3 linked regions of the Homo sapiens genome follow. The protein of the gene in region 3 purifies or fractionates together with the protein of the main gene of each other region. This does not show direct contact. Each region holds a gene or a part of one and is shown on either strand. Other genes may lie near its edges.

Region 1 (3,655 bases), on a different chromosome or scaffold from region 3:
AATGGGTATATGTGCATAAGATATGCAGTAATCATTTTTAACTAATCTTTATTCTCATTTGTTCCTGATTTTCTTTGCTTTCCTTTCCCTGAAACTTTTTATCCTTACTTTCTGCCCTGGCATCACATATTTAGACCTCTATAACATTTGATCCCTTACAGGCTCACAGACTTCCCCAGAACAGTGAAAGAAAAAAATTATTTTACTTTTCTATCTAATAATTTTAAAGAGAAATGAACAGAAGTCAATGTCTACAGCAAGAAAAATAACTCAAACAGATTAATCATCTTTCTACTTATGTTTCCTGTGGTAAATGAAAACATTTCACATTTATGAACTTACATTATCTTTCTGGGAAAGCAGTTACTGAGTTTGGATCTTAACAATTATCAATACAGTAAAATAACCTAAAATTCAAACATATTATCATTTGCTGACAAGCACTAATGAAAGCATAAAACTTTAGTTCAAAAAATGTCAATATTAACAATAGGAATATAAAAGAGGGTTTTAATTTACATGTAGTTTTTCTCTGATGAAGACATCAATCGTTACTGACTCTTCAGACTTACTTTGATGTCCTCCCCAAAACCCTTTAAGAAACAAGCCAAACTAATTTGAGGTCACAATTATGCATATTTTCCTGTGTACTTAACTCGCTTATTCACAAATATGAATCCTGGTACAGATAGGAGTTCTGATTCCATTAAACAGGACAGAACAGCAGAGACCAATTCTGAGACTTGATTATAGAGCTTGGGTTTCTCAAACAAAGATAGGAGAAGAGCTTCTACTTAAATGTATTATGTTTTTTCCTAAGAGAAATATCTGAGTTGTATTAACTGGTAAAGTTATTTATTTATTACTTTAAAAGTCAAGAAGGGCCGGGTGCAGTGGCTGATGCCTGTAATCCCACCACTTTGGAGGCCAAAGCAGGCAGATCACTTGAGGTCAAGAGTTCGAGACCAGCCTGACCAACATGGTAAAACCCTGTCTGCACTAAAAATACAAAAACTAGTCGGGCACAGTGGCATTGGCCTGTAATCTCAGCTACTTGGGAAGCTGAGGCAGGAGAATTGCTTGAATCTGGGAGGCAGAGGTTGCACTGAGCCCAGATCGTGCGCCACTATACTCCAGCCTGGGTGACAGAGTGAGACTCTGTCTCAAAAACAAAAAAGTCAGGAAGTAACACATACCTACTTTTGCAAAATAAGTATGTATTACCAATTTTATGAATTCTCATTCAGCTCAAACTTCAATTCCAAAGGCTGATTTTATTCTGTGTAACTAACTTCTAATTTCTATTATGAAACCCAAATAGAAATACCAAACGGAGAGTTGTAAAATATAAACAACAGTATACTTAATGGGTATCAGTGCCCTAAAATCAAGGTACAACTTACATGCTTAAAGTGTCAATATTAGAATGCTGTACATTCAGTTCAGACTTGACATTTACATTCTCATTAAGCTACACCTATTTGCTTAGTTTCGGGTTTCCATAAAAGATGTTCTCCATTATCCAACCTGGTAGATAAAATGATGCTATGAACTAATGAAGTAAAACATATAAATACTAAACAAGTACTAAATGATCTAACCAAACATTTACTAACTCTTTTTATATCCCACACCACTCACAGAAACTTTGAACACATACATTTACTGTAGAAACTTCCTCCTCCTCTGTTTCTTCCTGTGGAATATCATCGACAGGAGAGCTACCCTGAAACACATCTACTTCTTCACTTGAATCATTTTCCTTAGTAGCTGCTTGTTTGGAGCGTCCTACACGGCTAGAGTAAAACACATGTAAAACACAATGAACGTTCCAATCTTTCAGTAGATTACCTCGTTAGAAGAAATGTTTCACGTATTTCATCGTCATATCATCTTTACCCTCAGTTACTTTATGAGACAAGAACATTTCTTTAATATTCTGAATCCTAAACCAGCATTTAATCATAGAATGTTACATATTATCTACCAAGTAACAACAAAAAAATGTGACTGAGAACATACCATAACCTAAAGTCTGCTCTTCCTTTCATCTTTCCTAACACAGTAAAAGGCATCTATGTCTACTGAGCTGCTCAAAGCAGAAAGGAATTCTGCTTTGAATATAGTGTACCTGTCTTTGTCTGGCCTTATAGATTCTTATGGAGATCTCAAATCCATTCACTTCTCTCCACATCTCCATTGCTACCACCTAATTCAAACCATTCCCATCTCTTGCCTCTTCTCTTTACAAAGTTATCTTTTAAAAGTACAAGAACAGATGATGTTACTGCTCCCTACTGAGCTGAGAATAATTTTGTAAACCTCCTTAACAAAGTATACAAGGAACAGTAGATGGTCCTTGCCTACCTGTCCACTCTCATCTCTTTCTGCTCCCCAACTCCCCACAACTACAATCCAACAAACCCTTGCCTTCCTTTAGCTTTCTGATTTTGCCAAGTTATTTTTCACTTCAGAAACTTCAAATATAGTGTTCATGCCACCTGTTCTCTGCCTGTCTAGCCCCTACTATTCTCAAGATATCAACTCATTGTTACTTTTAAAGAAAAAACTTCCTCACTCCATTAGATGGTGGAAAACAAGAACCACGAGCCCATGAAAACAAGTACCACGTCTGTTTTGTGTCCCTAGCACCTAGTACTCTCTGAAACACAGGAGGCATCAAAAAATATGTAATAGAACCATCTAATCAAATGGATCCCTCTTGATAAATCTTTATTTTTTAAAATTAGAAACATAACATCACTTCTATAAGCAATCCAAAATATGTATTTTTTTAACTCACGCTCGAACCAAACAATTTTTTTACTTGGTTTGGTTTTTCGAGATTAATGAAACTATAGAAATAACATGAAACATAATGACAATCTTTTTCAATTTCACTGAGGTCAGAACAAGAAAAAGAAACAAATCCTAACATATGTTAGTATACTAGCTCTAGAAAGAGCTTCCCAGTGAAAGGAAGATAGGCTTCCAAGACAGACTACAGAATCTTCTTCCATATCAATTTTTTTTTTTTTTTAAGAAATACTTGTTTGGTTTAGAACATTCATAGGACTTGTGTAATTTTAGGAGAGCACAATAATCATTTAAACCCTGAATTTTATGATGTCCAAATATAAACAAACTAAAATTATGAGGTTTGTTATTTCCTTGTTACATCATTCATGTGTATTTTATTAAATAAAGGATTCCTTAAGAATCCTTTGTTTAGAAATAGTGATTTGGTTGAATCCAAACACATTTATAAAGCTGCCACAAAAATGTACTTACCTTTACTTTTAACCTGATAGAAAAATTACATGGAAGATGGCATGAAGTACTGGCTAGACACCCAGGCAACTTTTCCTCTTCCTGTGGAATACACAGGAATAGGAAAATCTCTAAGATAATTGAGTATTTAATGACAGTACATTGGCAACTCTGAAAAGTCGAGCCATGATGTAATTATGTATGGGTGGGATTACTCTCAGAAAAAGTGTTAAATTTCTGACTAATAGAAGACATGCTACTCTATTTCCACTCACATAACTAAGGAGAAAAAACACTGTCAGATCTGCAAATTACAGCAGTGATACTCTGGTGACACTAAAATTTGAGGTACAGATTCTTACTGTACCTCTCTTATAAATGTGTT
Region 2 (3,655 bases), on a different chromosome or scaffold from region 3:
GGAGATGTGGCCATACCCCCCAAGCATGCCGTCCACCGTGGGTGGGATTTGTTTCCAGTAGGTCTTGGCCTTGGAATAGAATTGCTTCTCGTCTTCTATCACCTCGCTCGTCATGCTGTCACCAACCACGGCTCTACTCAAGCACCACGATCAGCAACCGCGACTCTCCTGGGTAAGGAAGGGGGCGTGAGTCAGCGGGCCAGGGACCTGGCAGAAAGGCCCCCAGGGCAGAGGGCCAGTCTCACACCAGGCTTCACAAGTCACACATCCTGCTGAGTGCAGAGAGAAGTCCAGGGTCCCCAAATCTGCTTCTACCCCTTGGATAACAGCATCTTCTGTCTTTTGCACTCAGAGCACCCGCCCCAAGTCCTGGCTTCAAGTTCTTTTACATTTTTATTTTTTCTGGAGTGCAGTGGTGTGATCATAGCTCAATGCAGCCTCCAACTCCCGAGCTCAAGAGACCCTCCCACCTCACCCTCCGGAGCAGCTAGGACTACAGTTGTGTGCCACCATGCCTGGCTAATTATTTTTTGTAGAGATGGGGTCTCACTATGTTACAAAGGTTGGTCTTGAAGTCCTGACCTCAAGAGATTCTCCCACCTTGGCCTCCCAAAGTGCTGGGATTACGGGTGTGAGCCCATGTGCCTGGCCTGGCTTCAAGTTCTTGATATGCTCTATATGACACCTGACTCAGTGGCTTCAGGGCACAGAAAACCCTGATCAATAAAGAGAAACGACCGCAAAGCCGAGAGCACCAGCAGACCCTGGAGGGCCAGGGAAGCTTCCACGCCTCCCTTCCTCTGGCTCAGAGCACAGCAACAACTCACGGTGGGGTCCAGTCCTCCGTTAACAAGGAGTGGGGACTCTGTGCCAGGCACCGGGCTGTGAACCAGGCAGCCAGCCAGGCAGAAAACAATTCTACAGACACAACCACACCTGCAGGGAGGGCTGCAGAGGAGAAGCGCCAGTGCCAGCAGAGCACGGAGGGAGGAAGTGGAGTCGGGTGCGGGGACCAGGGAAGGCATCCCTGAGGAGGGGACGCGTAAGCTGAAACCGATGGATGGGCAAGAATAAGCGCAGTAGGTGGAGGGCGACGGCACTGCTCCTGGAGGGAAGGACAGACAGCCCTCGCGGCTGCCAGTTCCTGGTCTCACAGTCAACTCTAGCAGTTTCGACTGCATCCTACAGAGCAATGAGTCAACCACCCTGAGGCCCAACAGAGAGTGGCCCGGGAAGACCGATGCTTCTGAAGACTGCTGGCGGCGGTGGAGATGGCAGGGGGATGAGGAGACGGTTGCCACGGTAGAAGGAGAGAGAACTAGAAAGCCTCAGCTGGGTCCTGGCAGCAGAGCCCAGGCCCACCTCACCCTTCAGGACAGCGATGACAGTTGGGCGGCTCCGTGCTCCACGGGTGGCCATTCTGCCATAAGCTTCCCAAGGCACAGTGCTGTCACCAAGGCACACCACGCTTAGGGGCTGTTCTAGTTGCTGTGAGGCTTGCCAAGACCTCAGAGAGCTCTAGTCCAGGAGGACAAAGAACAAAGGGAAAGAAAATACACAGCAGAAAAATAAGGATTCTCATGGACCCACAAAGTGTCGAGGACACTCAAAGGGCAGAGGAATCTCCTCCCAACAGCAGATAGGGGCAGCCGCCTGGAGGAGGCAGCCCGAGCTGGGCAGCCAAGCACAGGGAGTGCTGGAGGGGGTGGGGCAGACAGAGGGAGCAGCCGTGGGACAGCATGGGCCATCAGAGGGCGGAGAGTGGAGCGGGGGAAGACTGTGGAAGGTGAGCTCGGAAAGGCAGACGGGGCCTGGATGAGGGTGGCCTCGAGTGCATGCTGGGCACCAACTCTCGGCTGATGTGTTTCCCACACTGCCAAGGCCTAACCTAAAGGAGGCAGAGTGAGAATGGCAGTGGCCGTGCTGAGGACACACAGCAACAGTGGGTGGTAGGAATCCCAGCAGCAGCAGCTGCTACATCCTGATAAACCCATGGTAAAGGGAAAATACCCTCGGTGGAAAACGCGCAGCTGACTGGGAGCTGCAGCTCACCGCCTCGCACGTGCTGCCTCCACACGAGGAGAGCAGGGGGCTTCTAGCAAATGCCTGTCGCCAAAGTTGACAAATCGTAGGTCCAAGACCGTCTGCCTGACTCCTGGAGCTACAGGGTCAACACGGAAGAGTCCACATATGGAACTCGGGTACAGTCCTCAAACACAACTCAAAGCTTAAGACCCAGGAACACTCTAGGGGCTTCAAGAGAAGTGGTCAGAGGGAAACGGGAAAATGCCCTGAGAAGGAGCACGAGGCCTTTGGGAAGCAACTATGAGGAAAGAGAAGGGAAACTAAACACAAGACAAGCTGGAGAATTTTTTCTTCTTTTTTTTTAGAAAGGGTCTCACTGTCGCCAGACTTGAGTACAGCTCAGGTGATCCTCCCATCTCAGCCTCCAGGGTAGCTGGGACTGCAGGCACATACCGCCACACCTGGCTAACTTTTGTATTTTCTGTAGATATGGAGTTTTGCCACGTTGCCCAGGCTGGTCTCAAACACCTGGCTGCAAGCAATCCACCTGCCTCAGCCTCCCAAGGTGTTGGGATTACAGGCAGAAACCACTGCACCCAGCCAAGATTTTTCATTGGTCAAATTTGTTACTGGCCCCAGAACTATATTCTGCACTACTATATTCTGAACCTGTCCTGAAAGAGAAGGAACTTTCCAGAAGCAGTAGGCCCACCCCGCCCAGCCAGCTCAAGAATACTTCTAACAGATGCAACGGGGTTCTTCTTAGATCCGTGATTGGGTCTTCTCACCCTTAGCAGAATCCTTTGGCTGTGCCTAGAGAGAAGCCTGCTTAAACTTCTCTTCAGATTCTTGTTTTTTTGAGATGGGGTCTTACTATGTGGCCCAGGCTGGCCCCAAACTCCTGGGCTCAAGCCATCCTCCCTGCTCAGCCTCCCAAGTAGCTGAGATTACAGGCGCACGCCACTGCACCTGGCTTCCCTCTTCAGATTCTTGAATCCGCTCGCAGACTGACCCCTCACTTTACTGTTCACGCACAAGGGTTTCAGCCACAATGAAGAAAGGCAGCAGTCACTTCACCAATCAGGGAGCCCTTTGGGGTAACAGGCTGGGGAGGACCTTAGTTCTAAATATTGCACATAACACCCTCCCCGCAAGCTGACCACAAAGCTCCCACACTGGTGTCCCAGCACTGGGAACAACACTGCCGGAAGGAGAAAGAAGCCCACGGCTCAGAAACCCCATCTCTGTCAAAAATACACACATTCTAGTAGCTACTAGGGAGACTGAGGTGGGAGGATCACTTGAGCCTGGGAGGTCAAGGCTGCAGTGAGCCATGATCCTGCCTCTGCATTCCAGCCTGGGCAACAGAGTGAGACATTGTGTCAAAAAAAGAAGAAGAAGAATGAATTCTTCTTCCCACCAGACCTGCCAATCCTCAAGACTGCTAGATGTGCCCGGGTAGCTGACAGGAAAAAGGGCCACCAATCTGAATGTCACCATGTAGCTGGGTTTGGTGGCTGCTATGGTCTGATGGCGTAAGGACCAGGTTAGGTGGGCTGCCTGCCCCTCTGCCAGCAGGTACCGGAGCAACCATGTCACAGCCCTCCATCAGTCACTCAAGAGAGGACGG
Region 3 (3,074 bases):
GTAGGAATTTCAATAATAATGGACTCTTAAAAATTCACTAGTACAACGAATAAATTCAGCTTTTGATTATATTTTGTTTTTACTAAAAATCACTAGTTATGATTTAAGAGAACTGTCAAAATAGCTGAGTTACACGTGATAATGTTCTTTCCTTTCTGCACATGATGTTAGTTTGGTACAAGTTCTAAACAGCAACCAAGTTATTACCAGAAGTAGTCCATATATTGTAATCTTGATGATTGAAGTGTTACGTTCACTTTGGGTGTTAACTCTCACTGTTGAAGAAGTGACCATTATTTTAAGATGATTTACTTCCTGACTTAAATATAATATAGCAGTAGATCTTTGAGACAATGCTTTTTTAATATTGTCTTCTTTAATCTTTTTTATTATGTTTGGGCTCTTTGTGTTTTTGACAGGCCTTAGGCTACTTTCACAGGGCAGAACAAGGTAAGGTATTTTTGATTACACATATTAATATAGTTAAAATTGTATGAATGCTGAATATATACTATAATAGCAATGTCTAAAGCAGTTGTTTATTCTGTTATACTTATTTTTGTGCTAGATACTGTAAAACAATTTTTAAAGTCTTTATTCAGTAAAGATCACCTGAATGAGAAATAGGCTGCTATTGAACTTAGAGCTGCAGTTCTGGAATGTCTATCATTTGATGTAATTCTGCTTCCTTTGTGAGAGCAGTCTCTGACATGGTAATTGTCTTATTCAAGACTGCACATATTGGCCAGATGTGGTGGCTAACACTTGTAATCCCAGCACTTTGGAAGGCCAAGGCAGAAGGATCACTTGAACCCAGGAGTTTGAGACCAGCCTGGGCAACATAGCGAGACCTCATCTCTACCAAAAAATAAAAATAAAAATTAGCCAGGTGTGGTAGCACACACCTGTAGTCCCAGCTACTCAGGAGGCTGAGGCAGGAAGGTCACTTGAGCCCAGGAGTTCCAGGCTACAATGAGCTGTGATTGCACCACTGCACTACAGCCTGGGCCACAGAGTGAGACTTGTCTGAAAAAAACAAAAAAAGATTATGCATCTCATTAGAGGCATTTAAATGGGAATTCTGCTATTCAGCCAGGCTAGTTCTATTGCAGATATTGTGAAAAAGAGTTTCGGGTTATGTTTGTTTTGAAAAAATGACTAGTCCTATGAAACTGCCACCAGCCCATCCTAAATTTATCCTTTTTAATATTCATACACCAAGTGGGGGAGATAAGAGACATAAGCATATGATACCAAATAGACCATAAAAACCATTGAAATATATTCTATAAAACTTAATCAGGAGAAGACATACCATGTTTATTAAATTTGAGATCCCACACATAATGGACTTGTTCATTTCATGATAACAGTTATCTTCTACAGAATTTTATCTGAATGTTTTATCTCTGTAATTCATCAATTCTGATTTATTCATTATTACCTTCACTGATACCCTCTCTTGATCATACTGTTTCACATATCATGAATATGAATCTAGGGATGACTTTTTTTAACAGATTTAAAAGTTAATTACAAAGTAAAAATATAGGACCTTAGAGACTTAAGGGTTGGGGGTGTTGAGAAAAACATGGTCCTACCCTCATGGAGCTAAAATAATCCCTGGTAACTTCAGTCATTCTTGAGTGACCTTACCTTATTTCTTTCTGGCCTATATTCAGTTCAGAGGCTCCTCTGATGCCCTTAGTATCTTTTATTTTTCCAGTGATACTTATCACTCAATACTATGAACATTTACATGTGTAAGACTGTACATTCTGAGAAGATGTGGACTTTGTCTTTTCTGGCTCACAATTGCACACTCATTACTTGGCACAATGCTTGGCAAATCTGTTGAATGACTGAGTAAATAGATGAATGATCGGATGATTGAATATACGAATATATTTAACCCCAGGACAACTTAAGTATATCAACATGGCATCACACAAATCTGCTCAAATAAAAGAAGTAAAACAATTTTGGTTAAGGAGCAAATGGAGTTAATCATTAATTGTATACAGGAAAAAGTATGCTTTGAATACAGAGGATCTCAGATTGTTAGGGGGACACTTTGTGAAGAATTAAGTTGGTGAGATAATTCCATGTTTTCATTCATAGGCTTTCTGTTTATGCTTTTCTTTCAGCCAAGAATGTTCTCCACTTTTTTTTTTGGTTTCTTGTAGCAGTTCAAAGTTTGTATATCTAGTAAAGCATTCCTTTCATTTTTATATTACATTTAGTTGTGTTCATGTTTCTCTCTTCATTATAAAGTTGAAAAAAACAGAGGTTTTGTTTCATCCTCTATGTTTAAGTATAGCTGACATCCAGTAAATGTTGATCAAATATATATATGTCATCATCATTTCATTCACTTATTCAGCCGATGTACACTGAATGTATGTTATGTTTCACACACTGTTGTAGGCACGTGGGGTACCATAGGGAACTAAAGAGATTAAAAAGAGTATTGCTGTCCTCAAATAGCATACATTCTATCGGGAGCTTCAGCTTCTCATCTATAAAATGGAGATACCTACTTACAAAGTTGTGAAAATGAGAAATGTGTATAATGCAGTGCCTAGCACATTTGTAGATGTTTATTCATTGGTAATTATTATTTTACAAATATTTGTTTGAGATATAAACAGTTGAACAAAAGAGAATTCCCATTAGTCTAATCACTTATTGACCACACAAATTTATTGAAATTTAGACCTCAGAAACAAACCTTTAAAAATAAAAGCAACACTGTTTCCTCTGAGATCATTTTTTCTTTCTTATGTGCAGTGGATCCAAACTTCTACAGCAAAAACTTACTTCTTTTAGGAAAGACATACTTGAAACTACACAACAAAAAGCTTGCTGCTTTCTGGCTAATGAAAGCCAAGGACTATCCAGCACACACAGAGGAGGATAAACAGGTAAAACATCTCCCATAAAGTAAGGCAGAAAGGTTTTGAGGCACTATTAAATGGTGAATTAAGAACTTCTTTAAAAGCATAATTTTCTAAATGCATAATATTGTTGAAAACAAGTGTGTTCATTTCAAGTGTAAATTGATTGACATTTAT

The links.
Region 1: the proteins of RMDN1 (region 3) and PDS5B fractionate together in Homo sapiens (co-fractionation; one large-scale study listed by BioGRID). This does not show direct contact.
Region 2: the proteins of RMDN1 (region 3) and NTMT1 fractionate together in Homo sapiens (co-fractionation; one large-scale study listed by BioGRID). This does not show direct contact.

The regions. Positions count from the first base shown.
Region 1 is NC_000013.11:32,771,330-32,774,984, reverse strand, and holds part of PDS5B (sister chromatid cohesion protein PDS5 homolog B), read right to left. Parts: intron 1,797-3,655; coding exon 1,661-1,796; intron 1-1,660. UniProt on the Homo sapiens protein: Regulator of sister chromatid cohesion in mitosis which may stabilize cohesin complex association with chromatin. May couple sister chromatid cohesion during mitosis to DNA replication.
Region 2 is NC_000009.12:129,629,163-129,632,817, reverse strand, and holds part of NTMT1 (N-terminal Xaa-Pro-Lys N-methyltransferase 1), read right to left. Parts: intron 169-3,655; 5' UTR 115-168; coding exon 1-114. UniProt on the Homo sapiens protein: Distributive alpha-N-methyltransferase that methylates the N-terminus of target proteins containing the N-terminal motif [Ala/Gly/Pro/Ser]-Pro-Lys when the initiator Met is cleaved.
Region 3 is NC_000008.11:86,474,670-86,477,743, reverse strand, and holds part of RMDN1 (regulator of microtubule dynamics protein 1), read left to right. Parts: intron 1-419; coding exon 420-450; intron 451-2,147; coding exon of another isoform or gene 2,148-2,209; exon of another isoform or gene 2,210-2,350; intron 2,351-2,790; coding exon 2,791-2,924; intron 2,925-3,074.